Homo sapiens: one gene and its partners. The protein of the gene in region 2 interacts with the protein of the main gene of each other region in a pairwise test. Each region holds a gene or a part of one and is shown on either strand. Other genes may lie near its edges.

Region 1 (7,026 bases), on a different chromosome or scaffold from region 2:
CAAACATCTTTTTTTTTTTGTCCTTAACACAAACAAAGATGCCTCTCGACATTTCACTATTTAAAGATTAGGTCCTTCAAACGTTTTTTTGATGTTAGTCTTTTTCCTGTTTTGCTACTAACCTGACCCTTCATGATAAGACAGAATAAAGGACAGTGAAAGTAACTAAAATGCATATTTGGTAGATTTTGTTACTCGCCCTGATACACAGCTTCATGGAAAAATAAGCTGCAGCTAATGAGTAAAACCCAAATTAGAGTAATTCAATAAATGACTACCAAAAGCAAGATGGTATTAATTCAAAAGACATACAGACACGGGCCTTGGTGGTAAGGAACTTAAAGTTGTTAAAAATTAATAGATTTCATTGTTGGTCTGCATATATCCTCTAACTTCAAATAAACACAGATAACTGTTATAAATACATACATATACATATATATAAATATACACATATATGTAGAGAGAGGGAAAACGCCACTGAGATGTTAACTTCCACAAACTGATGCATACCATGTTTATTTCAAAATATCTGTCAAATACTTCTTGAGCAGTAACATTTTCCCATTCCAGAAATGAGGCTGAATAGATTTCAAGGTTCCTTTCAGCTTTACCTTTACAATTAGCTGAAAATATGAGTCCTGATAAATAAAGTACAGTATATTGAGGAGATCAAGAACTAATTCCAAGATTTAATTTCTTATTAGTTACTAAACCTTTCAAGTCTATGTTTAATAAAGGATATCAAACCTGTAAAACCAAATTCATTTCACTTTCAGACCTTTAGTCTTATATCAACATAATAAATTATCTGTTTTCAAGTAAAAGCTCCAGTAAAAGATAGTTATAATTCCTGTCTCAAAGGCTCTTTGAGACTGTTCAATAGACTAAACATTTAATTTTCTCTTGTAGCCTAAAATGATACTTACGTCAAGCACTGATCCAGAGAGATCAGCTCGTTCAAGATTTGCACAGCAAAGATTTGCATGTGCAAGATTACAGCGGCTTAAATTGGCCATTTTGAAGTTAATGTATCGAAGGTCCAAACGAGAAAGATCAGCACCACTGAAGTTCAAACCCTGAAATAAAAAAGCACAAATTGTCACCATAACTAAATCGTCTGTTTGTATTAAATTTAATTACTATAGCTAACCACCAAGTTTTTTTTAGAAGCAATTGGCAGTTCAGTCACTTGGAGTTTATTACAGAACATGATAAAATGGAACTTAGATACATAAAAGAAGTGTCCTTAAATAGGTTCCTCATAAAAGAAACTCTATCAATATATACATTAGAATATAGCCCGGCTATAATTCATTTCTGTGTAGAAGCTTCTAAAGAGGGATCCCTGTTAGTCCTATACCTGCTAATAAGTATTTAAACCTAATTATATTTAAATTATTTTATTAATTCAGTAATTCAAAACAGTTTATTAGGCAAAAATGAGTACTGTGGTCTTTACAATTTGAAATGCTATAGTACACATAAGTAAAGTACCTGCCACTGATCAGCCCATATATTGCAAATGTACAAATACTGACTTTTAAAAAACTGCTGCAATTTCTATGCATTATTCATAAACTGTTGCATGAGGTATAATTAGACAATTTAAAAAGGCTATTATTGCATCTCTTTTTCGTTAACCATTTCAGAACTAAATCAATGCTATGACTCATAATTAAATTAGATCTTGCATGTAAAAGAAAAACAAAGCAAGATAATCCCAAAACACTAGAAGAATGTAAAATTTTATTCATAGATTTGCTGATAGAAATAATTGATGTAAAAGCCTGCTAATTACCTGGCATCGCAGTTCTGACTTGGTTGGAGTTGCTAGCAAAAATCGGACAAATTCCTTTCGGGATATTGGTGAATGATCCTCCGGTGGTTGAGAATTCTTAAAAAAGACATTAAGAAATTAGTGGAGTCTTTTGGGAGATAGCTACAATGAATGTAACACTGGCTAATGTAAAAACAGGCTTACCTTTATTGCCACTTCTAGGTGTTCAATCAATGAGTCAATACCAAAAAATCTTGCTTCTTCTAACACACCTATCAGAACAAAAATAATTCTGAAACAACCTAATTTAGTGAATGTATTACATTCATTTTGAATTTACTAAAATACGATTAGTTCACATAATCTTAACATTTAATTGCCTTTTTAAATGGAGCAGATCTGAACAGGTTTGCCACAAGTATCTTTTACATACTGAATCAGAAAATGATAGAAATGAATAAAAGTTTAAAAAGTACAAAAAAGTCAAAAGTATAATTCAGAAATCTGTCTTATAGGAGAATAAATTTTAAAATATTTGTAAATACTAAAAGAGCTTTCATTTATCATTTACTTTAACTTGGTAAAAAAAAATGTACATCCTTTACATGACTTGGTATATTTACTTATTCTAATCTGTTAATAAACATCATCAGAATGTGTGGGAATACATTTGGGTTCCATTATCTTTCAAATGAGAAGACCTCAATCAGTTGGCTGTTGACTCAGTAAAAAACTACTTAGAACTCTGGAATTACAAAGAAAGTATCAGACATAATCCCTCCCTTCAAACACTTACAAGCTAATAAGGGTAAGTAGATACAGAAAACCAGAAGCAGTTATTTGGGAAGAATAATACAATCTTTTCTGTGAAGACCAAACTCTATGGTCAACAATCCAATTGTAAAACAAACGTCATCCAAGGTACAGCATCGGGCTACCACTCTGGCATACAGGGTCCACATTTCCCCTTCAAGAGGCATCCAAAGATTATGCCATTCCGTTCGGATATATATCCCTGGTGGAAACTCAACATATTATAAAAGAGGTTCTTGTGGGCCACGCTCTCAATTTGCCAAGGTCTAAGTAAAGCAGAACTCTTAGGGAATGCAGCCAGGATACGTTTCCAATTCTAGGTTTAGAATTAAACCTTTAAAACATCCAGAGAAGCCATAGAAATACAAAAGACAGGCCGGGCTCACACCTGTAATCCCAGCACTTTGGGAGGCTGAGGTGGGTAGATCACTTGAGGTCAGGAGTTCGAGACCAGCCTGGCCAACACATGGTGAAACCCTGTCTCTACTAAAAATACAAAAAATTAGCCAGGCGTGGTGGCAGGTGCCTGTAGTCCCAGCTACTCGGGAAGCTGAGGCAGGAGAATGGCGTGAATCCAGGAGGCGGACCTTACAGTGAGCCGAGATCGCGCCACTGCACTCCAGCCTGGGTGACACAGCAAGACTCCATCTCAAAACAAAAAAAATACAAATATTAGCTGGGCATCATGGTGTGTGCCTGTAATCCCATCTACTTGGGAAGTTGAGGCAGGAGAATCACTTGAACCCAGGAGGCATAGGTTGCAGTGAGCAGAGATCACACCATTGCACTCCAGCCTGGGTGACAGAGCGAGACCCTGTCTCAAAAAAAAAAAAAAAAAAAAAAAAAAAAAAAAAATCTGGATTTGAATCCCAGCTCTGCCACTCACTACTTTTTGGTGTTAGTGAAATTACTGTAGATTGTTTTAAAGCATATAATTACTTGGGGCAACCTGTAGGCAATGTAAAGAGTTTGGATGGAAACTGTACTAACTGAAAACAATGCTTTATAAAATGAATCCAGCAGAGAGCTCTGCTTTTTGAACACTTGAACAAATAAATGGTTGAGAAACATGAAAAAGAAAAAACTAGCAAATCTTGGTAATAGCTTGGTTTGCAGATGTGTGACACAGCATGGATAAATATATTTCTGACATTTTCTAGGCAAGTGGGATACAAAATGCTATCAATAATTTGAAGAAAAATTAAAATGGGAGAAATAGAAAGCAACAAGAATTTAGTTATAAAGTTATAGAACTAGCTAAAAGGGTCAAATAATATCTTTTTTTTTTTTTTTTGCAATAGGTACATGTTCAAGGGAATATAAAGTTTGTTATAGCAACACTAAAAGTTAATGGGTGTTTTGTATTTCACTACAGAAACTGTAAGCCAGCAGTCCTCAGGCTGATTCTGATGTGTTCAGCATGTAATGTTTTCAAAACAAAAACATGTCACATAAAATTTTAGATACCCAGGTTTTCTTTAAAAACCAAGGTTCTGGCACTCTACGTCTGACCACTTTGCACATGGCAATGATCTGCTGAAGCTGACAGGCATGTGACCTCAAGATTGCCAACTGCCTACCATTCCTCAAGTACTAACATCACATCAACTTCAGTCACTTGGAGGCCTATTAGCTTCCAAATATGCAACCAGTGTTTTATAAGGGCTTTGTCTACATCACCTCCGTGAATCTTCACAAAAATCTTGTGATGTAGATAGGGTCAAGAGTGCTTTTAACACTCATTTTTCCAATATGACTCAGAGAAATTTCCCCAAGTTAGTCTCCCTAAGTTAGCAAGTTGTAGAATCAAGACTCTAATTGAGAATTATGATTGCAAGGCATGATTTGCCCTCTTGACTACTCTAGTTCTCACATAATGTGGGGAATATCCAGAACTTGGAGCCAAGTTACATTCTTAATTCAATTTTTAAAAAAGGAAACAACAAAATCCTTTAAAGTCACTTGTGATAGAACGTAAATCAATTTAGAATATAAAGTTGATGCGTATGGCTTACATATTTAGCTATATGTACAAAGACTATCTACCTGAAGGACCACCTGCCCGTGCCTAAATCTATTTCTACACCTATATCACTCATATACATGTGAAAACATCTAGTTTAAAAAATAGAAAAAATATATACTTTTACTTTATGGAAATATACTGTTACTGAGTGAAACAAAGTTAAAATCTTAAACTTACAAAAATGTGAGTAGTTACATAATTATATTGAAAGTCTAAATAAACTCACCCAATAAATTAATGCCATCATTTACAATGAGCTGTCCATGACGCAAGTAGTTCAAAATGGGTTCGAAGTACTCAGGACTTCGGTCAATTAAGAAAGCTCCTCTATGATCTTGCTTATTTCCCCAGACACCTGTGTCACCATTATAATAAAGAAAGTCCCCCATAAACAAAAAATAAAGTCAGAAATGTATGAGGAAAAAATTGCTAAATATAAGTTTTTACTCTTAAAAACTGACATAATTAGTAAGTACAGAAGGTCAGGAGTTATAAAGTCAGCACAGATATAAAACAGGTAAGATGAAATGTGAAAACAACGTGTTACACTCACCTTTGTCCTTAAACATGTGGGCCAGCATACTGTCAGGTTCTTTATTCACTAAAGTGCTCCTAAGAATTCAGGGAAAAAAATTGATTTCTCCATTTGTCTTTATAAACAAACATATTTAAGTCAAGAGTATACTCGATCCCAGCTGCTCTCTCAAAAAGATGCATGCTACAACCTGGTAGGAGTAACGCTGGGAAACAAAAACGTGCAGTAAGTTGCCATTTATCAGATCCCTTCTAATAGGGTACTTCCTTTGATTTAAACATTGTTTTAGTTTCCTTTGCTTTAAATACTTGTCTGTCTATCCTGTAAGCAAATTATTACATAATAATATTCTTGATCTTCCAAACTTACATTTTTCTGCCCTTTAATAAAAGCAGTTGTAGTCTCCACAAATTTCAGTAGTGTTAATTTTTACTTATATTGTGTGTTTATTACTCAATATCTAAAAAGCATGTTTTTTTTTTTTTTTTTGAGAAGGAGTCTCACTCTGTCACCCAGGCTGGAGTGCAGTGGCAGGATCTCGGCTCACTGCAAGCTCCGCCTCCCGGGTTCACGCCATTCTCCTGCCTCAGCCTCCCAAGTAGCTGGGACTACAGGCGCCCGCCACTACGCCCGGCTAATTTTTTGTATTTTTAGTAGAGACGGGGTTTCACCATTTTAGCCGGGATGGTCTCGATCTCCTGACCTCGTGATCCGCCCGCCTCGGCCTCCCAAAGTGCTGGGATTACAGGCGTGAGCCACCGCGCCCAGCCAAAAGCATGTTCTAAAACACTGAAGTGATGCCTTTTATGCTTTCTCTGGAGTGAACCATGTTTTTTTCTTCAAAAAAAGTTATAAAAAATGGTTTCAGATCACATAGTATATTTAAGCAGCATTTGAGTATCTTTTAAGGAAATCAGCAAATTGAAGAACAAAGGGTACACAGTGCTTCTTTTGCATTCTCTTTCTAACACACATACACACACACCTACCGTGTAGTTGTAAAGTACCGCCCTCCAACATTTAATGTCAGCCAGTCTGTGTGGAATCCTAACAATCCCTCAGGAGGCTTAGAATCTGTCTGAGGATCTAGAGATGACATGTAGAAAATAATACAAATATTAAGATTGGGGATTCTGGGAAGATGGTAATGGCATAATTTTTTAAACTGAATACACACATAATAAAAGCATACCAGAGCTACTAGGACAGCAATACCCAAACCCACAGACTGCATCTAAAACAACACTAGGTGATAAGGTAGTCCCACCAATACCAACAGCTATAAGAGCAGCATGCTTTCAGCGCCTGTGAAAGAAAAAGCAGAGAGAAGCAACAGGGTATATGATGAACCCATGAATGTTAAAGCCATCCATAGATACTGACTTCATTGCTTAATAAGTCTAGCTGAAAACAACAGATTGAGATCATCCCAAAAGTGGGTGATGCAAGTAGTTTGCAGTAAGATCTTATAGGGCTGAAAATAAACTCTTAAAACCAAATGGCCAAAACTCCCTTCCATGGACAAAGCCCCATACTGATAAGATGCTGGGAAAATAATCCAAGTTGAATGCAACAAAGACAACAGAGACAAAAAAAAAAAAGGACTGCAGATGAAAGTTAAGAGGTTTAATAGACCAGAATATATCAGAAAATGAGTTCTGTGTATTTTAAACACTTCACAAAAACAACAGAAAAGGGAACTCTAGAGCCATGAAATTGGAAAAACTGTCCTGTCAGCCCTCTTTTCAAGTTAAGAAAAACTAATTTCATATAAAAATGAGCAATACAAAAAGACTGATCAAATGTTAATACAAAAGTGTTAAAATAATAATTGTCCTTATAGATAATGAAAACATGCCAGAAATACCCACA
Region 2 (7,342 bases):
AGGACAATCCTGTCTTCTTAACTATACTTACCACTCATCTCCATGAGACTCCAACACAAAATAAAAATTAATTTTTATTCAGAACTTAAGTTGTTTTGAAGCAACAGGGCCCTTCAGAGTTTCTAGACCACCATACTGCCAAAAGCAGCAGCTTTTCCTTCATTCTTTTTTTTTTTTTTTAAGAGACAGGGCCTCGCTCTGTCATCCAGGCTGGAGTAAAGTGGTGTGATCAAGGCTCACTGCAGCCTCAACCTCCTGGGCTCAAGTGATTCTATCTCAGCCTCCCGAGTAGCTGGGACTATGGGCACATGCCACTGCACCTGGCTAATCTTTGTATTTTTGGTAGAGACAGGATTTCACCATGATGCCCAGGCTGGTCTTGAACTCGTAGGCTCAAGCAATCTTCCTGTCTGCTTCAACCTCCCAAAGTGCTTGGATTACTGGCCTGAGACACCATGCCTGGCTTTTCCTTCATTCTTAATACCACTGCTATCTGACTTTCACTCCTCGCCATTCATTGAAGCTGTCTGGCTAAGTTACCAAGAGTTACTACATCCGAGAGATTTCTCTGTCACTAACACTTGACACTGATCTTTGTCTAATAATGCTGTCTTTATTGGTTTATCTTTGATTTTCCTCCTAGTTCTCTGGCAATAATTCTCTGTCTTCTTTTATGGCTTTTTTTCCTTTACCTACCCTTAAATATTTATATTCTCCAAAGTTATGTCCTTGGCCATTTTCTCTCTCTTCTTTGGCAATTTCATCTCTTCCTATGACTTCACCCACCATTTATATGATGATGACTTCAAGATCTCTATCTATAACCCAGACCTCTTTCCTTTGCTTCAGATAAGTATATCTAACTACTTGCCAAACATCTTTTCCTGGATATCCTCAAATATTTTTGTTCTCAAATGAACTCCAAATCTCTAATCTGTTATTCCAAACCTCAGTTGATAGCATTAGCATTCCTCCAGCTGCCACAGCCAAAAACTCAAGGGTCACCCTAATCTCTCACCTTACCATCCATATGGTGACCAAAATCTGTTCATCTACTTTTTAAAATTCCCTTCTATTGAGTATGGAGTCAGGCACTCTCATATTTTGCTTGTGGAAATGTAAATTGTTACAACCCTTACTTATTATGGCAATTTGAGGTATATAGCAAAAGTTTTAAAAATGTGTATATCTTTTCTCCTAACAATTTCATGTCTAGTAATTTATCCTAAGGGAATAATTGGAAATGTGTACAAAGATACATGTATAAGAATGATTATACTAGCAAAATTTTATAAAGTACCTAAATTTTCAATAAGATTCCTTAAATACACCATTTTGTAATAAATTTTATTTATTTTTATAATAAACAATATTTGCTTCCTGAAAGGGCATACGATAATATATTAACAATGGTAATTTTAGGTAGTAGGATTTTAGACCTTTTTTCTTTGTGCTTCTCTGAGTTATCTGCATTTTCTACATTCAGCGTATATTTATTTTGGAGTTAGACAAAATAAATTATTTTAAAAATTCTCTCCTATTCAACGAATTCCTTTTTTCATTGTGACAATCTCCTTATCTCCCACCTACATCCTCCTTCCTCATCTGTTCACCCCTCGCTGGCCTTCCTGCCCTCAACCCCAGCCCCTGCAATTCCCTGACACTGTGGCCAGAGTGGCCTAACTCACAATTGAACCATGACTCTCCCTCCCAGGTTCAAAAACCTGGAGCCTTATGTCCACGCTCCACAACATAGCCAGAGAGGCCCTTCTTGGTCTGCAGACTCCTCTCTCACCCAAGGACTAAACTCTCCTGCTCTAACAGTTTCAGTTTCTGGTAGGTCCCTGCCCACAGGCTGCCTTTTCTCCTGACTGTCTTCTGCTGGAAGCCTCCTCCTCCTGGATCCCTCAGTAGGTCTGCCCTTCAGGTTGGGCAGCGCTCTCCCCTTTCTGGCTCTCCACCTCTGCTGGTGCATGTTCCACATCGGGCAACTCTACTTTGTTCACTTGTTTGCTGTGAGCTCCTCAAAGGCAAGGGCTGGCCCTTCCCTTTTGTATCCTGGGTTGCCTACAGATGAAGATACTCAGCAAAGTTGGATGGTACACACAGATAAATTCTCTTAGGCAGAGTCACAGTTAGACTCACAGATTTCCTCCCACCTGGCCACCAATCTTCAAGCACAGACACAAGTAAACTGTGATACATATAGATAAAGGCATGCATATAGGACAGTTTCCGGCCTATTCCACAGGCAGCCTCAGGGCCTTTGCACTTTGTGATCACTTGTCTGGAACTTTCAGCTCTTCTATTCTTTCAGGTCTTCATGTGGCTAGTTCTATCTCATCTTTCCAGTCTCAGTTTATTGTCACCTTGAGAGAGGGTTTTCCATGACCTAAGTAGCCCTCCCTTTCCATTTCCACTTCCACTACTCTGTTTATTTCCTTTACAGTATTTTTGAAGAATTTATAAAACTCATGTTTATTTCTTATTATCTGCCTGTTCCTACCTCCTACCCTAATGTAATTCCATGAAGGCAGGATTTTGTGCTGTTTTACATACCATTGTAAATTCTGTGCCTAGGTAAATGAATAAAACACACACATACACAAAGCTACAAATCATTACAAACATACATTGCCAGGCATCCAGACTGGCCATACACTCTGGCCTGCCCCTCCCCACCAATCTCCCACTTACCGGAGTCAGAAACTTGTTGGCTTCCCAGGCACACAGGGGTGGGTCCTTATAGACCTCCTTGATGGAGGTGGGAGCCCTGTAGGAGTCACTGTAGGTACTGATAGGGGTCCTGGTCTTACGGGAGAACAGGAACATGGTGTGGTCTTGGAGATGCCGTGGTGGGCTCTACCTGTCAAGGGCTCCTGCTGGACATCAGTGACCACCCTTCCCCTAGACAGGCCACACCTCCAGCCTGGCAGGTGCCCTTAGCTGCTATAATCCCCTCCTGCAGAGGATCTCTCAGCTTCCTTCCCCAACAGCCTTCCTGCTCCCACCCCACACTGATGCCCCCTCCAGGATGGGCACTGCCCATTGTGATATCACCTGGCTCAGCCCCATCCCTGGGAAGGTGAGGAGGTCTAATTCCCTCCCTGCTCCTGACCCCCTCCTGCCTCAAGCCTATCAAAAGAGCCCAATTTCTAAGAGTTCAGAGGGCCTCTGGAGATCTTCTAGGTCAGGTTTCTCACTGTTGAAGAGAAACAGAGGTTCGGAGGGGTTGTGACTCACCCAGGGTCATGCAGCAGGTCAGTGGCATGCCTGGGAACCCACAGGTGGAGGTGGAGTAACATGTGTGCCCAGAGGACCAGTTCTGTCTGCTTCCCAGCCCATCTGCCCCTTGCCCACACCCCAGGGAGGGAGCTGAGGCTGGCTTGTTTGATGCTTTTAATATCATTATTTGTGTTACACGATACACAACCAAGGATGATGGTCAATACTGCAATGAAAATGTTAAAAAAAATATTATACACGGCTCATGTCTTCCACACACCTTCCTGGAAATAAATTAGTGAGCACGGAGAAACCTGGCTGGGTGGCAGCCACAGCTGAGAGAGGAGGGAGTGTTAAGGCAGTATCTACAAGGGGAAGGGTGGCAGGAGGGCAAGCTAAGGCCTAGATTCTTCCCTCCAACCTCCCAGACAGGGAAGGAGGGAGCCACACCCCTCCCTAGACACAGAAGCTGCCACTGCCAGCTTCCTGCCTCTCTCTGCCACACATGCACTGCCTCAGTTGGAAGCCCTTGCCTGCCAGGGAACTAGTATGTCCTGTGGGGGGGGAGATTTTCCCTGGTGTCTCAGGGCCACAGAGATTGAACAATGGGCCCGAGTCACACTGCAAGTCAGCAGCAAAGGCAGCAGTCTAAATGAGCCCCCAAAAAGAGGAGGTACCCATGTTCTAGAAAGGTGAGCCAAGGAGCCCCGGGGTGGTGGTGGTGGTAGTGGGAGGGCTGGCTCTGGGGTCCAGATGATGGGGGCACAGGGGTTGGGGGGATGTTGATCTGGGTGGGAGAGGTGGGTTCAGATGGGGGCCAGTATGGGCCTTGTGGGTCCTGCAGGTACCTTCTCTGTCCTTGCCTCCCTTTGTTTGGCATTTTCTCATCATCTAACTTGGGTCCCTGCACTAGAGGAGGTAGGAATGGGTTGGCGGAGTGGGGGGTGGTGAGCTGTACCCCAATATTTTGGAGCTGGCAGTTCCTGGGTATGATGCAGGGAGAGGTACCACCCTTCCTAAGCCAACAGTCTCACTCCCTCCTCTCATTGCTCCCCATTCCAGCTCCCACCTCCCAGGATTGGTGTCCAGAGAGTGGGCTGTGGGTGAGTCTACTGCATGCCTGCAGCATGTGAGTGGATCCATGGGAGTGGATCCACCAGCACATGTGGGGTGTTAGCATGAGATGATCCACCTGGGCCTGTGCTATAAGGTATGTGGGCACAGGCCTGTGCAGTCTTAGGCTATCTGTGCTTTCATTTTTCTTCACACGGTGGCAGGTCTACACTGCCCAGCCCCAGGGGTGGGCCTTCCTCACCTCTTCCCTCTTGATTTTCAGTCTCAGCTTTCCAGTCCCCTCCCCCAAACCAGCAATAGCAGAAGCAGCTGTATACACATCTTGATCTACAGACACCCTATACAGCCACACACAATAGACAACCCTCCAACACACACACACATTCACAGACAAACACGTAATCCCAAACAGAGCCACATGTGCTCAGACATACACAGTCCTGATAGGAACTGCCCCTTCGCCTTTCTACAGAGACACACAACTCCGCCCCACCCCAACCTTTAGGTATACTGAGACACACAGAGATTGCCCCCTCCCCACCACAGAAATTTCTATGAAGAAACTCTTTCAGGTATAAAAGGATCTTCAACATAATTTCAGCTGCTGTTCATTTTCTAGTTGAGGAAACTGAAGACGAGAGAAAGCAAGTGGCTTGTTGAAGATCACAGGGAGGGGCCAGAGCTACAACCAGAACCCAGGCTTCTGACTCCCGGTCCAAGGCTGTCAGCCCATTGCACTGCTGAGCCGCCTTCTGCACTGTAAACAGACCACACAGGCACTTCCCTACCAGGGACACCCACATCTATGACAGGAATAGACTGAGGAGAGACAGGTCCAACAGAGACACACACCCACCCACCCCCTGACAGCCTCAGAGATACACACACATTCTGCTAAGCACTCCCTACCACATCCAAACAACCACATCCATAGAGCCACTCAGCCCACTGGATTCACCAAAGCTTGCTCCTGGATTCTTACTGGGAAGCAGCCTCCCACGTCTTGGGCTGGGGTGAGGGGAATGGGCCATTGGAGTCCAGCCTTACTCCCTGCTTCCAGGCTGGGATTGAGACCAATGAGCAGAAGCGTGGGTGAGGGTGGGGGCAGGGTGGGGTGGGCTGGTGGCAGACAGATAGATGCATTGGTGAGGGGCCAATTAGGACAGATCACACCACCCAAACCTCAGCCTGTCTGTAAGGCCCACCTTACCCTGCCCCACTCCCAGAGTGCAAGGAAGCGGGTGAATGGGGCAAGAGGAGGAAGAAGGCAGTGATCCGATGGGTGAGGGGCACTACCCGGTTGGGCAGCTTTGCCAGGCTTCCCATCTGAGGAGGGGGAAATGCAAATAGAAACATGGGCCGGTAGGGGGCGTGTGAAGGGGGCTCCGAGGTGCTGGGACCCGTCCCCACTGCCCTGGGCCTTTCTCCCTCCGAGCCCCTTTCCTGGTTAGGCTGAGGCCGGGGCTTGGGAGTTCATGGCTTCGCTGGGGTGGGGCCAAGCCCCTGGCTTTGTGATCCCCCCACTCGTTAATGTTGACCTCCCTGCCGTCCAGTCTTCTCTCTTGGCCAGCCCTGGGAAGCGGGGCAGGGTGCTGGGTGAGGTTCCCCCAGGTAACTGAACAAACGGCCCCCACCCCTCCTCAGCTCCCGGGTGGAGAGAGACCCAGTTTTGGTTTCTCCAGCTCCATGAACACACAGAGGTACACGTCCTACCATAGGAGGAAGCAATGACTGTTATACGAGGTTGGCGGCTGTAGGGGCGCGGGGCCGGGGGCAGGCAGACGAGCTGGGAAGGGGTCGGCCTCTGCCCGTCCTACCCGGCCCTTGGCGGCCCCGCCCCGGCGACCGCAGTGGCCCCGCCCGCTACTGAATGTGGCAGGCGGTGGAGGACGTGGCCTGGCAGCACATGCACGTGGGGTTCACGGACTTGGGGGGGATGAGGTCTAGGTCCTCGTCGTCGGGGATCTCATCTAACCGGTAGCCGTCCTTCAGCAGCTGGATGTTCAAATCTTGGTTGATCTGCTGTAGGCAAAGGGGAGGGAGGTCAGGCCCGAGCGGCAGGGAGGCACCACCCACAGCTCTGCGGCCACTCCAGGCCGTCTGCGCCCCAGTCCAGCCAGTGCCCTGGATATCAGCCCCGCCCTGTCCCGGGTCTGTCTGTACCCCCAGGCCCCGCTCCTGCCTAGGCGCCCTCCTTCGCCTCTGGCCTCTCTTTCTAGTCACCCCTCCCCATTCTATGGTCAACTTCACACCTCTGGTCCTGCTCCTATTCGGGTTTTGCCCCTATCTCAGGCCGGCTACTAGAGGATATCACCTGTATTTTACACCCATTCTATTTAAATGGCCTGCTGCAATCTAAAGCCCCACTCCTAACCCTGGGCTCCATGCACTTGAGGCCAGTAACCACTTCTCTTCCATCCTATCCCAGGCCCACCCTGTGCAGGGCACCACCCAGCCTTGCCCAGCCCTCTTTTTCCTTGTACTTGGGCATTGGCCCCAGCCCTCCCCCGGGATGGCAGTGATCCTGCCCGGTGGTGTCTAGGGTGAGAAGGGGTAGGGGCTCACCTCAGCAGAGGAGTAGCCGGAGGAGGAGTATCTAGACATGTCAAAGTCATCATCGCTGGCCATGGAGGAAAGAGAGGGAAAGTGATACCAAGAAATTACATAGAAAACTCTCTGCAATCCCACCTCCCATTAGGCAGCATCCTATACCTCCCTTACAGTTCCAAATAGCAAAATCTCAATACGAACTGTGCTTGCTGTGCAAATGCAGGATTTTAAAGACAAGTTCCCTAGCCCCACCCTTAAAATCAATTGCTATCCTTAACCTCCTTCTAAATATAGCAGTTACTCCTTTCACCCCCTTCTCATCTTTTTTTTTTTTTTTGTAGACTCAAATCACCCTGACTTGTAGGATATTCCCAAAGTCCAAGTCTAGCCAGGTGTTTTCCAGGGAGTAGGGCTCCTTCCTGAGGGGATGGGGCATTAAGCATCATATTCTGCTGTCCAGAGACAACATCACAGGCCAATTAGGGACAACCAT
Region 3 (6,878 bases), on a different chromosome or scaffold from region 2:
CTTCCCCCTGGAATGCCTTCTTCCCTCCCTCTCCTGGGGAGCCTCCAGCTCAAAAGGGCCTTGGCATAAACCTTTCTAAGTCTCTGCTGTCCCCGTTGCTGGGCCTACAGCTGCAGAACCCCTCACTCTGACGCCATTGTGAGTTTGGTCCTATTTCTGTCTTCTCTAATGTAACGTGGAGTCCTCTGAGGGCAGAGATTATGTCCTCAGGCTCAGCACAGTACCTGGCCCACAGTAAGCAGACATCCAGCTTTTGGCAGGAAGCTCCAGTTTATTCTGTCTCATTTCTGCTTTCCCTCCTGGTTCCTGGCCTTTGGCTACCATTGGAGCTGCCAGGCCAGGCCAACAGCTGCAGACCAGCAGGGCCAGAGAAGCAGAGGCCTGCCGGGCCCATCCCTCCCGGCAGCCCAGAGCACGGCCACCCAGCGCAGCTGGAGTCTCAGATCCTTCTCTCTCTCAAGAAGCTGCACATCTCTGCGCATCTCCCACCTCTATGCCCTGGCTCCTTTCCCATTTCTGGGCCAGGAACAGTGCCAAAGCCTTCATTAGGGGTGCAGGAATTAAGTGAGACAGCAACAATATTGGCATCGGCCTCCCTGAAAACCATCTTCTCAAGAACTCAGTTTCTGATCTTTCTTTCTAAGCCTGGCTCTTCCAGGAAGCCCTCCCCACTGCCCATAATACTGTGCCACCAGCCGGGCGTGGTGGCTCACGCCTGTAATCCCAGCACTTCGGGAGGCCAAGGCGGGTGGATCATCTGAGGTCAGGAGTTTGAGAGCAGCCTGGCCAACATGGTGAAACCCTGTCTCTACTAAAAATACAAAAATTAGCCAGGTGTGGTCCCAGCTACTCAGGAGGCTGAGGCAGGAGAATCACTTGAACCCGGGAGATGGAGGTTGCAGTGAGCTGAGATCGCACCATTACACTCCAACCTGGGTGACAGAGGGAGACTCTGTCTGAAAATAAATAAATAAATAAATAAAAAGAAAAAAGAAAAAAATACTGTGCCACCTACACTTAGTTACAAGCCTGCCTCCTTCACCTGCCAGGGTATACCTTCAGGGTCAGGGCTGTGACTATTCCTAGCTCCCAGGATGGTGTCTGGTACTTAAGGGGAGCCTAATAGGTGTTCATGGAAAAATTTACTGCCCAGGATGGGAGAGGGGGTTGTCACAATGTGTGGATGTGTGTGTGTGTGTGTGTGTGTGTGTGTGTGTGTGTTTGAGAGGAGCTGTATCTCATTTCAGCCAAGGAGGCTGAGGCCAGAGTCCAGGGCACAGACCATGGCAGGGCCTAGTCCAGCATCCCCAGTCCCACCCTGGTCCCCCTGAGGCTATGATTAACCCTTGTCCTCAGCACAAGGACAGAGCCTCATCTGCCAGCCAGTCTTGGCCATGTGGGGAAGTAGGTCAGGGGCTTCAGAATCCGGATAGCTGCTGCACATCAGGGCAAAGCCAGCCCTCTGGAGCCTTGTGGATGGAGACCAGGGTGTGGGCACACCACAGCAGGCCACAATGGCACAAACTGCAGCAGACTTATGTCCACACCCCCCAGCTTGCTGGAGGCCATGGGAAGGTCACTTCTCCCTGGACATGTTTCCTCGCCCCTTCCAGCTCTCACCATCCAAGAAGGAGGCATCTTAGGGGAGGAGAGGATAGAACTGACTCCACTCCAGCAGGCCTCCTCTTCCTTTCTGTCCCAACAGCCCCACCCCCCACTCCCAGTGATGTCATTTCGGCCACCTCATCACCAGCTTCTAACCCCCTTCCAGTCGCCCTTTCTGTCCTCAGATGGCAACTGGGGGCAGCGGAGATGTATCCCTCTTTATTCGGTCTCTCGCCTGGCACACTGGCCGGGATTCCCGAACCTGACCCCCTCCAAACCATGAGCCATTTGCAAGGGGACCGGGCAGGGGAGGGCTAAGCGACTCCTGACTCTCGAAGGCAGATGGGAGACTTGACTTTCTGCTTCTTCACCAGCAAAGACGCGGTACCACTTCTCCCTGAGTAGGAAGCGAGTTAGGGAAACTTTCTAGGAGTCTTAGAGCTCATAATTCCTGTCAGGGACGGGTGCTGCTGGATTTGGCGTGAGATAACTTCCCTCTACACACAAGCCACCCTCCCAGCAAAACATGACGAAGGAGCCGCCTCCCGGCCTCAGAAGACTCCTAGCTAGCGCTCAGGCCCCGTAACAATACCAGGGGCGGCCGAGCAGTTGCTGCCTCCAGGACGGGGTGGGCGAGCTGGATGACGGATGCCCGGTCGTCTGGGAAAATAGGAAGACCGCCCCCCGCCCCCCACTTTTGCAGGTCTCCGCCCGTCCGGTCCGCGTCTTCTCCGGCAGCGCCCCCTCTCTCCACGTCCCGGTTCTCCAGACGCGTCCCTCCTCCGAGTCGGGCGCGCCCGGTCCAGCCCAGCCCCTCCCGGGGTGATAGCGCCCAACAATGGAGAAGCGGACAGGGGTCACCGGGCGCTCCCCGCCTTCCTGTCCCGGTCGCCCCCGCGCTCACCCTGCTCCAGGTCCTGCTGGTCGTACCAGGACTCCTCTTCCTCCGCGGAGAAGTCCTCCATCCCGGCGGCTCTCCGCATGGCCCCGCGGGCGGCGGGCGGGTGCTGCGGCGGCGCAGCTCAGGGCCGGTGCGCGCGGCCCGGGACAATGCGGCTGAGGCGGGCCGGGCCTCCAGCGTCGGGAACTCGGGCTACAGAGCCCGCGCCGCGCCCCCTCGCCATCAACCGCTCGCCGGGAGCCCACGCGGGGCCTGGCGCTTTGCCAGGGTCCGGCCCGGCCGGGGTCCCGCAGAGCCGGGGGCACCGGGCTGCGGCGACACAAAGGGTGGAGTGGCAGGGACGGCGGGTGGGACAGTGGCAAGGAGGATCCGGGCCCGCAGGCGGGTCTGGGGCGCTAGGAGCGCGCGGGTGCCGTGGCGGGCGCCCCCTGCCCGGCTCGGGTCCGCGCTGCTCCTGGCCCGCCCGGCGACAACCGGAGCCGCCGCTGCATCTTGGCGGAGCCCGCCTGCAGCTTGCGGAGCTCGGCTCCGCGGGGTGGGGCCTGCCGCCGCCGACCAATCAGGAGATGTATGCAAAGCTGGAGGCGGGGCCGAGGGCGGGACCCTCCTGGTGTCTTGGTCTGGGAATTGCTTGATCAACCCTTTCGTCCTACTTCCCCCTACGACCTATTCAGTTTATGTCTCATGTCTAAAATTATGCTATTTTAGAAGTTGTCGTCTCTCCTAGATCTCCTGGAAGCAAGAATATTGTTTCTCTTTCACAGCTGGCTACTCACTTCCTAGAACAGGCTGCTCACCAGTCGGGCGCGATGCCTGACTCCTGTAATTCCAGCACCTTGGGAGGCCAAGGCGGGCAGATCGCCTGAGGTCAGGGGTTTCGAGACCAGCCTGGCCAACATGGCGAAACCCCGTCTCCATTAAAAATACAAAAATTAGCTGGGCATGGTGGCGCATGCCTACTCGGGAGGCTGAGGCAGGAGAATCGCTTGAACCCTGGAGGCAGAGGTTGCAGTGAGCCAAGATAGCGCCACTGCACTCCAGCCTGGGCGACAGAGGGAGACTCTGCCTCAAAAAACAAACAAACAAAAAACAAACAACATGCTGGTCATTGATACCTTCCATCGACATTCTTTGAATGAATGAATACTAATTTACAGTTGCCTTTGGGAACTGCGTGTTTAAGTGCTTGTGGCTAGAAACCACAGGCTGAAAGTGGCAAAGTTTGAGGGTGTGTTACCTGCATTCAAGGTTCTGTTTTCCTTTCCTTGGGACCCATATCCTATATCCAATTATACCCATTAAAACTATACACACTTGCATCTGTCCAAGCATTCTTTCCTTAGAAGAGTGTTCGGACTCAAGCATTCACGTAACTCATTTTTATTGGGACCCTAATGTGCTGGTGCCGTTGAGAATCTCTGAATAATGTTGTGATATACCCAACGAATGACTTGTATCCAGAATACAGAAAGAACATCTGCATAGTCATAAGAAAAAGGCACGCAACCCAGTAGAAAAGTGGGTAAAAGATTTGACCAGGTAATTCACAAAAAAGGATACACAAATAACTGAATAAATATGCAACAAGGTACTGAACTTCTTTAGCCATCAGAAAAATGCAAATGAAAACCACAATGAGGTATCACTACCCAATCACCAGAGTGGCTTTAGGGAAAAAAAAAAAAAAAAAAAAGGCCAGGCGTGGTGGTTCATGCCTATAATCCCAGAACTCTGGGGAGGCCGAGGTTGGGAGGATCACTTGAGCCTGGAGTTCAAGAGCAGCCTGGGCAACATAGCAAGATCCTATTTCTATAAAAAAATTTAAAAATAAAAATTAGGTGGGCATAATGACACACGGCTGTAGTCCCAGATACTTTGGGAGGCTGAGGTGGGAGAATTGCTTGAGTCTAGGAGGTTGAGGCTGTAGGGAGCTGTGGTCATGCCACTGCACTCCAGCCTGGGTGACAGAGCAAGATCCTGTCTCAAAAAAAAAAAAAAAAAAAAAAAAAAAAAGACAAAAAATACCTAGTATTGGCAAGAATGTTGAGCAACTGGAACTCTCTCACCCTGCTGGAGGGAATACATAGGACGACAACCACTTTAGAAAACTGCCCGGGCGTGGTGGCTCATGCCTGTAATTCCCAACGCTTTGGAAGGCCAAGGAGGGTGGATCGCTTGAGGTCAGGAGTTCAAGACCAGCCTGGGAAACATGGTGAAACCCTGTCTCTACTAAAAATACAAAATTAGCTGGGCATGGTGGCACATGCCTGTAGTCCTAGCTACTTGGGAGGCTGAGGCAGGAGAATTGCTTGAACCTGGGAGGCGGAAGTTGCAGTGAGCTGAGATTGCGCCACTGCACCCAGCCTGGGCGATAGAGCAAGACTGCGTCTTGGAAAAAAAAAAAAAAAAGACTGCTTGATAACCATGAAAGCTGAATAACGTAAGCTGTTGTAGGTTGTGTTCCCAGGCAGCTGATCCTGAGATGGAGATTAGCATGCAGGAAGTTGATTAGGGATATCAATCATATTGGATTAGAGGGAGAAAAAAGAAAGAAAGTTGACTAGGGAGTGCTCTCATGATCAACACCTGCAGGAAAGGGAGGGAAGCAGGGTTGGTGGGGGAGAAGCTGGGTTGGTATGTAGCCTCTGCAAAAGCCTCCTCTGATCCCTGAAGAACTTTGAATCCAGGGTGACCCTTCAAAGCTATTCCAGGTATCATTGGGGGAGGGGGCCTTTATATCCCCCACCCTTACATATCAACCAGTCATTGAATGACACAGGTCGTTCCTAGGAGGCATGTGTGACCTTGGCCAAATAAGTTCTTTTCAGCTGAGACTAGTTTGCACAGAGCCCTGGCAGCTGGGACTGCCAGCCAGGGGTCCTCCCAGCAGCTAAGGGAATAGGTCCTTTCGTTCTGAAAGAGTTGGGGATACATCACAGCAGCCACTATACATGCATACCCTATAACCCAGAAATTCTATTCCTATATATGTGCAAGAGAAATATGCACATACCTTATCCCAAAGACATGTACAAGAAAGTTCATAGCCACAGTATTCATAAGCGCCCACACTGGAAACAACACAAATGTCCATCAACAGTTGACGAAGAATATGTGGCATGTTCATGTAATGGAATGTTATATAGTACAAATACAATGATCTACTGTCATGGGCTTGGGCTAAAAAAAAAAAGTTGAGTGAAAGATGCCAGACACAAAGAGTAAATACCTGTATTTGTCTCTTATTGCTTCTGTAACAAATGACCCCAAATTTAATGGGCTTGAAACAACACAAATTTATTATTTTATAATTCTGTAGAAGTCTGACAAGGATCACTGGCTAAAGTCAAAGCATTGGTAGAAGCTGTGTTCCTTCTGGAGGTTCCAGGGGAGTATCTGTTTCCTTGTCTTTTGCACCTTCTAGAGGCCACCCCATAGTCCTTGGCTCATGGCCTCTTTGTCAATCTTCAAAGTCAGCAACAGAAGGTGGAGTCTTTTTCACATCCCATCACTCTTACCTTTTCCACCTCCCTCTTATAAAGGACTCTTCTGCTTAAACTGGGCACACTGAATAATACAGCATAATCTCCCTGTCTCAATGTCTTTAACTAAATCACATCTGCAAAGTCCCTTATGTTGGGCAAGGTAACATATTCAGAGATTCTGGGGGTTAGGATGTGGATATCTTTAGTGGTTATGATTCTATCACAGCACTGCATGATTCCATTTTATATAAAGTTCATGGCCAGGTGCAGTGGCTCACGCCTGTAATCCCAGCACTTTGGGAGGCCGAGGCAGGCAGATCACGAGGTCAGGAGATCGAGACCATTCTGGCTAACACGGTGAAACCCCGACTCTACTAAAAAAATAAAAAATAAATTAGCTGGGCGTGGTGGCAGGCACCTGTAGTCCCAGCTACTCAGGAGGCTGAGGCAGGCGAATGGCGTGAACTGGGTAGGTGGAGCTTGCAGTGAGCCGAGATTGCGCCACTGCACTCCAGTCTGGGTGACAGAGCGAGACTCTGTCTCAAAAAATAAAAATAAAAATAAAGTTCATGTGTCTGGAATCCCAGCTACTCGGAAGGGTGAGGCAAGAGGATCACTAGAGGCCATGAGTTTGAGACGAGCCTGGGCATCACAGCCACCCTCTGTCTCTATAAAATATAAATAATAATAAAGTTAAAAACTGGCAAAATGAATCAAGATAGTGTTTGGCTTTGGGAAGGCATGTGGAGAATTCTAAGTGGCTGGGAATCTTTTTCTAAAATTTTTTAAACTTATTTTTGAGATGGGATCCCAGGCTGGGGTGTAGTGTCATAATCATAGTTCACTGTAACCTCAAAGTCCTGGGCTCAAGTGATCCTCCTGCTTTA
Region 4 (7,026 bases), on a different chromosome or scaffold from region 2:
ACAGCTGGGGGTCCTGGAGGTCCTGGAGGGCCTGGGGGTCCTGGAAGGCCAGGCTGGCCTTGAGGACCAAGGGCACCAGGCTTCCCTGGGGGGCCATGAAGTCCTGCCACTCCGGGTTTCCCTATACCAGGGAACCCAGGGGGCCCTGGGAGGCCCGGCTCCCCTTTGGGGCCTGGAATCCCAGGTGGTCCAATGGGGCCACTAGGGCCCCCAATCCCTGGGATACCTGGGGGGCCCTGTAAACCCTGATCCCCTGGGATTCCTGGCTCTCCCTTAGGTCCGAGAAGCCCTGGAACACCAGGGAGTCCTGGTACACCTTTTTGCCCAGCTTCCCCCTTGGGCCCTATGGGACCTGGCAAACCCCTCATGCCAGGAGGCCCTACTTCACCAAGGAAACCTGGCTTTCCTGGGAAGCCTTGAAGCCCTGGCTCACCCTTGGGACCTGGTGGCCCCTGTGGCCCTACAATCCCACCTTCTCCTTTGGGTCCAGGAAAACCAATAGCACCTGGAGGGCCCATAGGACCTGGGATTCCAGGCAGGCCTGGCTCTCCTGGAGGACCCCCTATTCCTGGGGCACCTATTGGTCCTTTCTCCCCTCTTGGTCCAAGAGCCCCAGGAACACCTCCCATGCCCCGGTCACCTTTGGGTCCTGGGAAGCCTGGTTTCCCAATCCCTGGAAGGCCTGGGGGTCCTGGTAGCCCTGGCAGTCCTTGCTCCCCTTTGCCACCTGGAAATCCTGGCTGGCCTGGGATCCCATCCTGGCCTGGCTTTCCAATTCCGGGTATCCCAGGAGGTCCTTGAACCCCCGGTACCCCAATAGGGCCTTGTGGCCCAGGTTCTCCTGGAGCCCCTGGCTTTCCCAGGGGGCCCTGGGGCCCAGGGAAGCCTGTCACTCCTGGTTTGCCCACTCCTGGCAGTCCAACAGGGCCGGGAGGGCCGTGCATCCCTGGAGGCCCCTTTACACCTGGCGCACCTGGCATCCCGAAGCCCTTGTCTCCTTTAGGACCCCGAAGGCCTTGAGGTCCTGGTAGTCCTTTGGGTCCTCGATCACCCTTTGGTCCTGGTTGCCCTGGTAACCCTGGCCCACCTGGCTTCCCAATGCCAGGAAGTCCATGAGGCCCTGGAGGTCCTTGTGGTCCTGGGATCCCCATAGGCCCAATTTCCCCTTTCTGTCCAATTTCTCCTTTTGCCCCAGGCATGCCCATGGCTCCTGGCTTCCCTGGCATTCCAGGCATACCTGGCTTTCCAACTCCTGGATATCCCTGTGGCCCTGGTTTTCCTTTAATTCCAGGTATCCCATGACCTGGCAAACCAGGGGGCCCAGGTGGTCCTCTTGGGCCAGGCTCTCCACGGGGACCTTGTTCCCCTCGTAAACTGGCTAATGGTATTTCTACTGGGAAGAGAAGAGAGAGAAGGGGTATGGGGGGAGAGAGAGAGATTGATTAGTAGATTGTCTCTCACATCAATGAAGTACTGACAACCATTATTTAGTTCTGACACATTTGCCTAATACTTATCAAGAGAAAAGACTAGGAATAATATGCTCATCTTCTAGACCTTAAAAATCAGGCCTGGCATGGTGGCTCGTGCCTGTAATCCTACAACTTTGGGAGGCCCAGGCAGATGCATCACCTGAAGTCAGGAGTTCGAGACCAGCTTGGCCAACACAGTGAAACCGCGTCTCTACTAAAAATACAAAAATTAGCCGGGTGTGGTGGCACATGCCTGTAGTCCCAGCTACTTGGGAGGCTGAGGCAGGAGAATCACTTGAACCCAGGAGGCAGAGGTTGCAGTGAGCTGAGATCACACCACTGCACTCCAGCCTGGGTGAAAGAGCGAAACTCCATCTCCAAAAGGAAAAAAATAAATAAATAAGAAAGAAAAATCAAGCTGACAATTTTTTTTTATGTATTTGAGGTATTTTTTTGATAACTGATATGTGAAGCTGCTTGTATCAACATTGGTTAAGTAAAGAAGCTAAAAAGTAATGAAGAAGAAACATTTTTCCAAGTATAAAACTTGGAGATATTATGGTGTGTTTATTATAGTGAATTTGGAAGATTCAAAGATGTATAAAGAAAAATCAAATTTGCCTATAAGCCCACTACTCAGAGATAACCACTTAACATGTATATATATTTTCATCTCATTTGTTCTATCTGTGTGTGTGTGTGTGTGTGTGTATTTTAAACAATATTGGAGTTGTTATCCAAATTATAGTTGTATTTTATTTATGGGGTACAAAGTGATACTATGATTCATGAATACAATGTGGAATAATTAAATCAAGCTAAATATATCTATCACTTCAAATACTTATTTTTATCTCGTGAGAAATTTGAAATTTACTCTTTCAGTGATTTTGAAGTGTGTAATACATTATTATTAACTATACTCGCTATTCTATGCAATAGATATCCAAAAAACAACTTATTTCTCCTGCCTAACTGAGGCTTTAAACCTTTCATCATCATCTCTCCATTCTCTCCCTCCTGCCCCACCCCAAGGCCTCTGGTAACCACCATTCTCCTCTGGGTTTCTATGAGTTCGATTGTTTTAGATTCCACATTTAAGAGAGAATATGCAGGATTTTTCTTCCTGTGCCTGGCAAAGTTTTTAAATATAATAATTTATGGCCAAGATATTTCCTCTTATGCTTAAATACAGTATGATGTGAAATAGGAAAGAATAGAGTTATTTTTTGTGTGGTTCAATAACATCTTTCCACATCTCTCCTTTAGAATTAGTAGATTTGCTTAATTTCTTGAAGGTGCTGTGGGATTTCCTAAGCCTCAAATATTAGTTCATTAATTTAACAAATAATTTCTCATATACAAATCTGGCTTTTAAGTAGGAGAGATGAATAAGATATTTTAGAATGATAAACAGTATGGATGAAGTCGAGAGCTTGACTTAGGAACAAGAAGCTCTGCTTATCTTTCTGGTCTTGGCGTGAGATTGTGACTGGGTCCCTTAAGCTGTCAGCATCTCTGCTTGCCTATCTGTACAGCAAGAATAAGAATAATACAGCCACACTACAAGATTAGAGAATAGATGTGAAAGGTGTCACCGTTTCTCAAATTGTTATTGAAATACACAGCACGTGCTGTTATAATGAACATGCTGTGCCTTTCAGATGAACACAACTCTGGATCTCCCATGCTGCTGGGACTAATGGATAACATGGAGAAATGAAATATATGGTCCCAATATCTTCTTGGCATAATACTTATGTCACTAGTAGCACCTTAATCCTGACCATTGTACTTTTTGCTGAGCTACTGTCAGAGAATAAAATACAAACAGAGAACTCATTTCGAGATATGAGGATCCATCAGAGTAAGTACAAGAAGTGCCAAAGGCAAGGCAAGCCATTCAATAAAGGAAGGAAAAGAAATGTCTGAGATAATCTTCTAAGTATAATACTAGCTCCTAAAGAGAAGAAAGTCAGGAATACTTTCTTTACATGAATAGATATGATTATAGTACTATTCAGGCATGCTATTTCTAACCAGCGAATTGTGTAGTTACTGTATTGAGGAGTTATCTGGGGAAGAGTAGGAGAGATGAATCAGGAATCCCTGGTGTCTAGCACAGAGCCTGGAACACACTCTGTTCTTACTGAGGATTTGTTGAATGAGCAGTTGTAGCAACTCCAATTTCCTATGGTGCTTTAGCATTTACTCAGCACTTTACTTACTATGTATGTCACTGATTCTCTCAACAATCTTATTTTACAAATGAAGAAAAATAGGCTCTGAAAGGTCAAATGACTAGGTCTCTCTCATTTCTGGCATCCAGGCATCTAGGCCTCTAAGTTCCAAATCCAGTAGTTCTCCAGAGGTGGAGCTTCCTGCCATTGTAGGGACTAGTGGGACTGGCTCCACTTCCTCAAAGGTAATTGCTGCTCTGATGCAGCAAGTACTAGGTTTCTGAGAACTCCAGACAAACCAAATGAATTTATCGTCAAGTGTCTGTCACACTGAGGGGCATTTTGTTGGTGCTAAATAAATACGCCAAGAAAGCAACAGGAGAGATTTTCAGGTGTCATCCCTAGATGCAGTCTATACTCTTAGTTTCCTTCTGTTGATCTATTGATTGACATATGTAATTAGAGTAGTATTAAGAACACTTGCACCTGTCTAATACTTAGTTCGCAAAATGCTTTCCTGTGACTTTTCTTTTAACACAGCAGGTCCTTACAACATTGCTCTCTTAGTTCAGAAGACTGACTTGTCACCTTTCTTTTTTTTCACTGCTTTAGCTCCCAGCATCTGGCCCAGAGCCTGACACAAATAGGTGCTCACTATAGATAGTTGCTGAATGTTTGAATAAATAAACAATAAGGGGATAGACTATTTGTGATTTAATATATTTTATTTCATCTGATGCTAGTTAAAATAATAAAGCAAAACATAAATGGTAGTCTTATCTGTGTCTTTAAGGCTTGAAGTTTTCAAGAATATGGTTAGAACACAGTAGGCATTTTAAAAATGCCAGTAACAAATTCTAAAACTAAAGCTTCTAAAATTTATCTTCCCCCTCTGATCCCATAATTTAGAGATTTGGAAAGCTGTTGTTTTATAACAGCCTGGGAGTATGATGTTACCTTTGCCTTTCTTGGGTACGGCTTCCTTGCCCATTCTTGGCGCCGGTTGAATTTCCTTCATATATTGGGGTAGGTGTGGATACTCTTTGCCATACTGCAAGTGGGGCATCTCCTTGCCCATGGCAAGGCCATCTTTGGCCAAAGGCATGTGAGGTACTTGCTGACCCAGGGGCTGGTATTGTGGAATTTGTGGTGGCATCTGAGGAGGAATTTGAGGTGGCAGCGGCTTGATCCCATAGTAGGCACCAGCCTGAATGAGCCTGATGGAACTCAGGGAAATGGTAAGCAGCACTCCCAGCAGCTGCAGAGGGCCAGGCAGCACAGCCATCACCTGTGGGAGGAACCAATGCACCAACTTGGTGAAACTCTGCAAGGCCAAGTGACTTGAGTTTATTTAGAGATAGAATGGGGAAAAAAAAGGGAAACAGTCTTTAACATCAGAACTTCATGATAGAAGTCAAATGAAAAGGAAAATGCTACTTTCTATAGAAAACAAACAAACAAAAAATAGAGAATAGTGGAATCTGTCAAATAAAGGCAATTGGTAGGAACATAGACTATGGGAGAGACTACTGGTTGTCCCCCATATCGATTCTGCCTTTCTTGCCCTGTTTTCCCGTCTTCACCTGGGAATAGAGCAGCCCAGAATGAAGACATTTCAGCCAGGCAGGGCCATTTCAGCCATTCTTGCCAATTGTGTATAGTTGTCATGGGTGTACCTTCCAGGAAGAATCCTAAAAAGGAGTGGATATGTCTTCCCCTTCCTCCTTCCTTCTGGCTGGATTGCTGATATGTTACTGGAAACAGACCACACATCTTGGACCATGAGGCGAATGCAGTGCACAGAGAATGATAAAACGAGCTAGAATAAACCTCAGTCCTGGTTAGGCTTTGTTAATAAGTGCCAAAATTATATTCTAAATGGAAACAGTTGATAATTTATAGGCTTTATGCTACAGTAGAGATTTTTCATCTGCCAGATGAGGGCTGCTTTGATGTAGTCACAAATAAATGTAAATGTAAAGAGCAAACAGGAACAAAGCCTGCAGAAGTCTTCTGAGTTGAAGAGAAAATGCTTCTTCATGTAATAGTATGAAATATTTTAAAAATCACTATCATAATTATGCACCTTTATTTCTTGTATTAAAATACTATGAATTCATTAGTTTAGAAATTGGTTAATTGGACCATTAAAGTCTATCTTTGTCCTTTTGTGAAAGAAAGTTTACAAAGCAAGAGTTGTATGAATAAGAGGGAGATGTTTAACTATTAATAAGAATACGCTGCTTCTAAGCCCATTAATAGCACTCTTTACAAATTAGCAGTAAACAGAATTAATATAAATGGGGCTTATCTGTTTATAAAAACCAGCTTGAAAAGACCTCTGTTTGGAAACGCCCTAGGCTTAAAACCAGACAGCCCAGAGAAGTGCATTGTTGGCAAATGCACACTAGAGGGCAAGTGTGATACACACTTAGGTCTGTTCAATATTCTGCCTGCCCACTCCCTGCCCTCTGTAGTTCTAATGCTGGGCATACACGAACTCCATGCTCACAATGTATAAAGGGACTTAATGAAAATTTGAATCTTAAGGGACATGTCATCATAATGCTGGAGAGAGAGAGAGAGAAGTGGCAAATTTCTCACAATTTTTAATGTAAGTATCTTCTGGAAAACTTTGAAGAAACTTCTGTCTGTAAATAATTCAATTTCCATCTTCTTGAGAGTTGTTTTCTTTGCTTTTGCCTTACTTAATTCTGGATCATAGTTTTCTACTTCTTAGAAAATGTGCGTTGATTTTGCAATATCCTATTCCAGGGTAATGCCAAGAGTGTATACAGGCTACAAAAGGATTGGTTAATAAAACACCTAATAAAATATTTAAAATGAATCCCTATCACAAAATTCAAGCTTTACAATCTTTCTAAATACACTAACAAATCATTTTTTCCCTGGAAAAAATGAAGAAACAGTTGCTAGGCCCATTTTGGATTACTAAGATGAATATAATATGGCTGGTGGGCCTTACCATCAAGGAGTTTGTACTCTTAGTGGGGGTGACAGATGTGTAAACTGTTATTGAGTAGCAAAGGATATCTAGTAAAAAGTAAATTTTCCTCCTACTTCTGTTCTCCAGTATCTAAAATCCCTTATGTTTGAAGCAACAATTTTTCCTCATATTTTTCAGATAGTCTGTGGATATGCACATATCATATACATCCCTTTCAAACATAAATTGCAGTATACTATACACACTTCTATTTTTTGCTTTTTTCACTCAAAGATCAGTACTTATTCCTTGTCTAGTTATGTGCATCTAAACAAATTTCTTTAAGTTCTTCATTTATTAAAATATGACTTGGATGTTCCCTTAAGTCTTTTCTAGCTCTAACATTCAATGTCTGTAAGACAGTTAC

What was found.
Region 1: the proteins of SPMIP6 (region 2) and KCTD9 interact in binary tests that used the Homo sapiens proteins (3 or more experiments, as listed by UniProt).
Region 3: the proteins of SPMIP6 (region 2) and CDR2L interact in binary tests that used the Homo sapiens proteins (3 or more experiments, as listed by UniProt).
Region 4: the proteins of SPMIP6 (region 2) and COL8A1 interact in binary tests that used the Homo sapiens proteins (3 or more experiments, as listed by UniProt).

The regions. Positions count from the first base shown.
Region 1 is NC_000008.11:25,434,434-25,441,459, forward strand, and holds part of KCTD9 (BTB/POZ domain-containing protein KCTD9), read right to left. Parts: intron 6,241-7,026; coding exon 6,144-6,240; intron 5,360-6,143; exon of another isoform or gene 5,232-5,359; coding exon 5,173-5,231; intron 4,975-5,172; coding exon 4,846-4,974; intron 2,053-4,845; coding exon 1,985-2,052; intron 1,898-1,984; coding exon 1,802-1,897; intron 1,080-1,801; coding exon 930-1,079; intron 1-929. UniProt on the Homo sapiens protein: Substrate-specific adapter of a BCR (BTB-CUL3-RBX1) E3 ubiquitin-protein ligase complex, which mediates the ubiquitination of target proteins, leading to their degradation by the proteasome.
Region 2 is NC_000009.12:34,394,802-34,402,143, forward strand, and holds the start of SPMIP6 (sperm microtubule inner protein 6), read right to left. Parts: upstream 3,010-7,342; 5' UTR 2,833-3,009; coding exon 2,698-2,832; intron 1,534-2,697; exon of another isoform or gene 1-1,533. Other genes in the region: protein FAM219A, read right to left, coding at 6,163-6,321, 6,865-6,919. UniProt on the Homo sapiens protein: May participate in intramanchette transport and midpiece formation of the sperm tail. May play a potential role in somatic cell proliferation.
Region 3 is NC_000017.11:74,983,754-74,990,631, reverse strand, and holds the start of CDR2L (cerebellar degeneration-related protein 2-like), read right to left. Parts: upstream 3,001-6,878; 5' UTR 2,589-3,000; coding exon 2,510-2,588; intron 1-2,509.
Region 4 is NC_000003.12:99,788,594-99,795,619, reverse strand, and holds part of COL8A1 (collagen alpha-1(VIII) chain precursor), read right to left. Parts: intron 4,941-7,026; 5' UTR 4,938-4,940; coding exon 4,610-4,937; intron 1,391-4,609; coding exon 1-1,390. UniProt on the Homo sapiens protein: Macromolecular component of the subendothelium. Major component of the Descemet's membrane (basement membrane) of corneal endothelial cells. Also a component of the endothelia of blood vessels.